Homo sapiens: one gene and its partner. The protein of the gene in region 1 purifies or fractionates together with the protein of each later gene. This does not show direct contact. Each region holds a gene or a part of one and is shown in the gene's direction. Other genes may lie near its edges.

What was found.
Region 2: the proteins of DQX1 (region 1) and PSMG4 purify together in Homo sapiens (affinity purification with mass spectrometry; 2 studies listed by BioGRID and IntAct, with this or other methods). This does not show direct contact.

What each region holds. Positions count from the first base shown.
Region 1 is NC_000002.12:74,517,400-74,520,475, reverse strand, and holds the end of DQX1 (ATP-dependent RNA helicase homolog DQX1), read left to right. Parts: intron 1-441; coding exon 442-561; intron 562-729; coding exon 730-920; intron 921-1,245; coding exon 1,246-1,436; intron 1,437-1,873; coding exon 1,874-2,030; 3' UTR 2,031-2,345; downstream 2,346-3,076. UniProt on the Homo sapiens protein: Might be involved in RNA metabolism; it is missing helicase motif III and may not have helicase activity.
Region 2 is NC_000006.12:3,261,918-3,265,493, forward strand, and holds part of PSMG4 (proteasome assembly chaperone 4), read left to right. Parts: intron 1-1,766; coding exon 1,767-1,842; coding exon of another isoform or gene 1,843-1,907; exon of another isoform or gene 1,908-2,256; coding exon of another isoform or gene 2,257-2,408; exon of another isoform or gene 2,409-3,576. UniProt on the Homo sapiens protein: Chaperone protein which promotes assembly of the 20S proteasome.

The sequences.
Region 1 (3,076 bases):
CTTACGTGCCATGCTGTTGCCACAGTCTAAAACATACTCCCTGCCCCGTCTCCACTCGGCTAATTCCTACTCAAATTTCAAATACTAGCCCAAGGGTCCTCATCGTTTTCTCTTACATCACTCACATCCTCACCACCTAAAGCCTGGATTAGGTATCCTCCTCTTTGTTTCCACAGTACCATATACAAACACCTATCATGCTTATCAAGTCTGCTTACCTGTTGGTCTCTCCCACCAGACTTGAAGCTCCTTGATGGCAGAGACTGTATTTCATTTACTTATCCTCAATGTTTAATAAAGTGCATAGCACCTAGAAGTTATCTATGTCTTTTGAATAAAGTTCCCAAAGGGACACTTCTGCCTTTTCAGCATTCTACCTGTACTACTATCCCTTCCCATTTCCCAAATGGCAGATTCTACCTTCCACTCTTCTGCCTCCAGCTGCCCCTGGGTTTACCCGTCCTCCACTCAGTGCAGAAGAAGCTGCCCTGCGTCGGGCCCTGGAACACACGGATGGTGACCACAGTTCTCTGATCCAGGTGTATGAAGCCTTTATACAAAGTGAGTTCTGCATCCTTTTATAGAATCCCAGATTTTCCAAAGAGGGGAAATTTTATGCAGCCAGCTGACAGATCTCTATGCTCAGAAAGAGGAGGCCCTTTGGCTAAGGGTTGGGTTATTTCAGGGGTCTCAAGGACTTTAGTTTAGCTGGTCCCTTTCCTCTCCTAGGTGGAGCAGATGAGGCTTGGTGCCAGGCTCGAGGTCTGAATTGGGCAGCATTGTGCCAAGCCCATAAACTTCGGGGAGAACTCCTAGAACTCATGCAACGAATTGAACTTCCCTTGTCCCTACCAGCCTTTGGCTCTGAGCAGAATCGCAGAGACCTTCAGAAAGCACTGGTGTCAGGATACTTTCTCAAGGTTAGAGGAAAGGGTGGGGGTGAGGGTGATCAAAGGAGCAAAAGGCAAAGAGAACAAATATTGGTAAGCCACTTTGAAATCAGGGTCCAGGTGGCCATTCAAAAGATTCTTTAGAACCAGAAAGGACTTTTCCCTTGAGGATTTGAGGTACAAGGGGCTATGGTAAATGCCATGAGGTATAGTAGAGACCAGACAACACCTAGAGGTAATGCTTTACTTTTCATGCTCTCATCACCCTTACTCTTTCTCAATCCCCTTTTATTTTTTTCTACTGCCTGCCTCTTCCCTTTTATTTATTCCGTCAATATTTCTGCCTTTCAATAAGGTGGCCAGAGACACAGACGGGACTGGAAATTACCTTCTCCTAACCCATAAGCATGTGGCCCAGCTCTCCTCATACTGCTGCTACCGAAGCCGCAGAGCTCCTGCCAGACCCCCACCATGGGTGCTCTACCACAATTTCACCATATCCAAAGACAACTGCCTTTCCATTGTTTCTGAGATTCAACCACAGATGTGAGTTCCCTGACATCCCTCCTATACTGCCTATTCCTCTCCCTGGGGCCAAAATTATGGCTGGGGAGTTAGAGAGACAGAGGAAGGGATCTTAGTGGTTAGTAAAAACATGATCTGAGGAGACAGGATTTGTGGAAGGGCTGGTGAGAAGTTTAAAAGTCTGCATTATAAGAGAAGATGCACTTTTGGAGACCTAGGCAGGAGGAGTCCTTGAGGCTAGGAGTTTGAAACCACCCTGTAGTCCCAGCTACTTGGGAGATTGAGGTGGGAGGATTACTTGAGTCTAAGGCTAAGGATTACGGGAGTCTAAGGCTACAGTGAGTTATGATCATGCCACTGAACTCCAGCCCAGGTAACAGAGCGAGACCCTGTCTCTAAAAAGAGAGAGACAGAGAGAGAGAAGATGCAGATCATCTAATTATGACTCTCTCTATTAGGCTGGTGGAATTGGCCCCTCCATACTTCCTGAGTAACTTGCCTCCCAGTGAGAGCAGAGACCTTCTGAACCAGCTAAGGGAAGGAATGGCAGATTCTACAGCAGGGAGCAAATCATCCTCAGCCCAGGAGTTCAGAGATCCCTGTGTCCTGCAGTGACCTGCCTGCCTATGGAATGGAGCTGGGTTCATCTCATCACATTAGATTATCCCTCAGGGTGACACCAAAGCACCCAGACAGATTTAGAAGCCCAAAGTTTAGGGTCAAATGTAAACCCTGGAACCTGAGTCCCAAGAAATGGTAGACTGGGAATGGAAAGAATGGGGTAAACCACAGTCTACATAGGGAAGGACTCTTTCCTTAGCCTTCTCTTATTGATTGGAGAGGGACTGACATGCTCCTCATTCTCTTAACTTTGCCAAACCCATTCTTGTACTCCCTTGTGATCTATAAAAGATTTTTCTATGATGCCAAGTTTTAGTTTGGTCCTGCAGTGCCATATACAACATCCATAAATCAGTGATGATATTACAGTAAATAACCAGGGCCAGCTCCTCCAACTATATAGTCTCTAGCCTCTTCCCATCTCCAATCAGGCCTTCATGCTATGATCGACATAGTTGTCACTAGCACAGACATGAGTTGTCTGGCTACAGTTGGTCTCTAGCCTGGCCTCTCTTCCCTCTGTCACAGTGCACCAGCCTCCAGGGGACAAAGGATGGGGGTGCTAGAGGAATCAGACAAATTCTTCCCTTTCTTCCTCATACAGCTTAAATCCAATTCCTTTTTAAACCTTAAGGCTAATGCAACCATCCCCTAACTAGACTTTCTATTAACAAGCTTCCCAGCAGCCCAGACACACCCACAAGGGGAAGTCTTTCTAACAACTTCAGAGACATCATGCTTTCCTTTCTTTCTTCCTAGGTTCTCCTTCCTTCCCTTCCCCTTTTGTGCCCTCGGAATTTTTTTTTTTTTTTTTTTTTAGACGGAGTCTCGCTCTGTCACCCAGGCTGGAGTGCAGCGGTGCAATCTCAGCTCACTGCAACCTCCACCTCCCGGGTTCAAGCGATCCTCCTGCCTCAGCCTCCTGAGTAACTGGGACTACAGGCATGTGCCACCATGCCTGGCTAATTTTTGTATTTTTAGTCAAGACAGGGTTTCACCGTGTTAGCCAGGATGGTCTCGATCTCCTGACCTTGTGATCC
Region 2 (3,576 bases), on another chromosome or scaffold:
GGAATTTTGCCAGCCCACACGTGGAGAATGGCACCAGACGGTCTGTGAGGTCTCTTCCCTCCAGCTTCCCTAAACTCCCACATGTGAGACTGTAGAGAACAGACACCATGCAACCCGGAGCTGGCTGACCTTGGGTTGAGCAGGGATTTTTGGTGCCCAGAGAGGCTGCAGGACTAGTGACACTGAGTCCTACCAGCTTGAGGGAAGCTGGCCTGGGACCTGGGCCCGTGCCTGCTCAGGGATTCTTGGACCCCCCGCCCGGCCTCTAGGAGTGGAAGGTGGTGCTTCAGCTGCAGCAGAACTCCCTGGGCATCTGCTGGGAGACCACAGTCCTAGTGTGATGTCGGAAGTAATGAACTATTAAGGGTGACACGATGGGGCTTTACATTTAACTTTTGGTAGAAAAAGGCCACCCTGGGTAAGGTAGATTTTCTTTTTTCTAGAAGGTTTAACTGTACATACTATTACCATGCAGCTAAATGTTGAACTTGAGGAATCTGTAAACAGCAGGCTCATTAAGATATTTTTGTATCGTTTTTAGTGAAGAAGCATACAGTAAATGCTTTCATTCTTCTCCTGTGTTTTTTGATCTCCTGCCTTTTATTGTCTTTTGTGGAAGTGGCTTTGAACCTTTAGGAGATGAGCAGCGCCTGTGGTCTCTGCCCTGCCATACTGTCTGGCACACAGTAGCTGTTTGTTCAGTTAACTTGTCCCCACCAGGACAGTTGGGGTGGCAGGGGAACCAAACCCCAAAGTCTCTGTACCTCTAAAAACCTTGCCACTTTCCAAGATTCTCAGACCTCTGTAGCCAGGCTGCTTCTCCTAGAAATCTGCTATTTTGATAAAAGCAATTTTGGCCATATTACCAATAAGTGTTTTTTTTTTCCCCCTTTGGAAGCTAGACCTTCTTACTTTATTTTTTTATTATTATTTTTAATAAAAATGTAGAGACAGATCTTACTTCATTGTCCAGGCTGGTCTCAAACTCCTGGTCTCAAGCAGTCCTCCCTCCACAGGCTCCCAAAGTGCTGGGATTCTGGGACTAGCTAGACATTGTTAATGGTGAGAGATTACTCCCAAAGTAGTTGGGAGCAGTTACTCCCACATCGCCGGAGGGCCCATTTGTTGATCTGAGAATCATTTGTACTGCTTGTTTCACCTTACTGCTTCTTGTCTGAAATGAGGTTGGCCAAGCATGTTCAGAAGTTATTTTCCCTATTTAGATGCTGGTGGCTGGTGCCCTTTGTATCAAAGTCACAAGGCACTCGCTGACCCTGAGGAGCCCACAGGGGCTGGAGCAGCATGCTCCCTCACAGGCTGAGATGAGGAGATTAGGCATCCTGCCTCTGAGCCAGCTGCTGTGGGGCACGAGGCACCAGTGCACAGGTGCCCCGACTGTGAGTCACTTTCTTCTTGCTGTAGCCTTAATGATCTTGTTTGCTTCCCTTTTGGTTGTGGTGTTGCCCTTCAGCATGCTTTGGAGTTTGAGACACTAAAACGAGCCTTTCGTGTGAAACTGGTCCTAGAACTTAGTAGCACTGTGGTTCCAGCTTCATCTTTCCCAACTCCGCTGACCTCATATGCGACATGGGGTCCACCTACTTGGTTGTTGACGGACGCCACCCCTCTTTCCCTCGGCACCTGTGCCTGTCCTCTCTGAACCTGCCACTGCCATCGTCGTGAAGAATCAGAAGCCCGGAAGCCAGAAGTGTGGCTGGCCTGCGGGGGGTGGAGAAGCTGCAGTGTGCCCTTTGCTTTTCTTTTAGGACTCCATCCCCGTGTCTACCTCCCTCCTTGGAGACACTTCCGACACGACCTCTACTGGCCTTGCCCAGCGCCTAGGTATGTACCCACAGCTGGCGCTGCATGGCCAGCCAGGTGGGGCCCACTCTTTAATGGAACCATGAAGCAAGTCCCTTCGGAAGTAAAGCATCTTTATGCTAAGAACCATCACCTCATTGCTGCTGGGAAGCACAGACCTTTGCACGTTGGGTCTTATTTAAGGGGCACATTCCATGCTCGCCTGTCATCACCACCGTCCCAGGGCTGGCCTGTTCCCAAAGGACTCCCACCTCGTCCTTGGGTGTGTCCTTGAGTCCATGAGCTGATTTAGTTGCCTTCCGTAAGTGCATCACCACCTCCTGGGAGGAGAGCATGAGAAGTGCCCACAGCCCCTGTGGGTGGTGGCTCAAGGTAGCCTCCCGGGCCTTAGGAGGAGTCAGTGCAGCTGGTGGAGCAGGTGTCACCTCTGTGCAGGAAGGACTGTCCTCACTCAGTGTGATACCGTTCAGGGCTCGGAGGGAAGACTGGCCTGGCCTGTGAGTGTGGCGTAGAGTGGGGATTAAGCAAAGGTCATGAGGCTGAATGCTCCACTCTTCCCACACCCCAACACACTTCCTGTGGGCCAGGTAAGGCTTCCATGTGCTCTGCGACCCCCAGCCCCAGTGCCTGTGGCCAGTGTGCACAGGATGCCTGTCTCCTGCCCAGGCCTGGCGTTCTCCAGTAGGCCCAGCTGCTTCTGCTCTGGAGTCTTCTCTGTGTCTCAGGCACAGGACCTGGTACCTGACAAGCAGGAACCTCTGTGTCAGTCACACTGAGGCAAATGCACACGAATAGCATGGCACCTGGCCCAGGGGGAAGGCAGGGCAGGGTGGAGTGTCACCAGCAGGCCCATGACAGTATGTGGATAGGACAGAGGTCAGGGAGGGCACAGGTCAGCATTTCAGGAACTCGCAGTATTCTTTTTCCCTCCCTTGGAGGTGGGGACCTGACTTGTAAGTTAATTTGGTAATTTTTAACTAGGAAGTAAATTTAAAATTTACAGAAAAGTTGCAAAGAAGATAGAATTCCTGCTTAGCTTTTGCCCCAATTTCCCACTTGCCACCCTTCCCTCTTTGTGTTTGTATCTTTTTTTTTCTGAGCCACATGAAAGTAAAGCTGCCTTTTGTGTCTGTGTCACTCTGTGTGTGTGACTGTGTAAGGGGTAGCACACTTACATGGAACAGGTTACTGCGTGTGGGAGAAGGCTCAGGAAGGTATTCATATTTATACAGACGGAAAGCTGGGTGGGGTTGCGGACACACTCCCATAGAGAAGGTGGTGTGAGCTTGTCTGGCAGGCCGTGAATAACTTTCATATCAATAAGGTAAATTAGTCTCCAGAATATTTGCGAGATGGAGGCCTAGTATCTATATGCAAAAAAGAGGGGTTCTCAGTATCTCGACTGTCTCAACAAGTCACGGGTGTGCCGTGGCTTCCGGCGTCTCTTAAGGGAATGGTGCTGCAGAGCTCGGACCAAGAAGGTTTTCCAGCAAAGTCCCATGCTTTGCCAGTTGCCTTGAGCCTGGGTCTGGGCCCTCAAGTTGAAAATGCACTATAATGAAAAGGGAGAGGTGTCCTGAATCAGTATCTTATATGAGAGATGAAAGCAGGTAGGGAAAGAGAAGGCCTGGGGGGTTCTCAGTAGCTCTGGAAGCATCGCAGGAGTTGGTGTGGCCAAGGGGACCCAACCTCCTATGGCCCTGGAGGGGCACAGCTTGGGTCTGAGGGGCTCAGTGCCTCCAGACACAGCGTTGT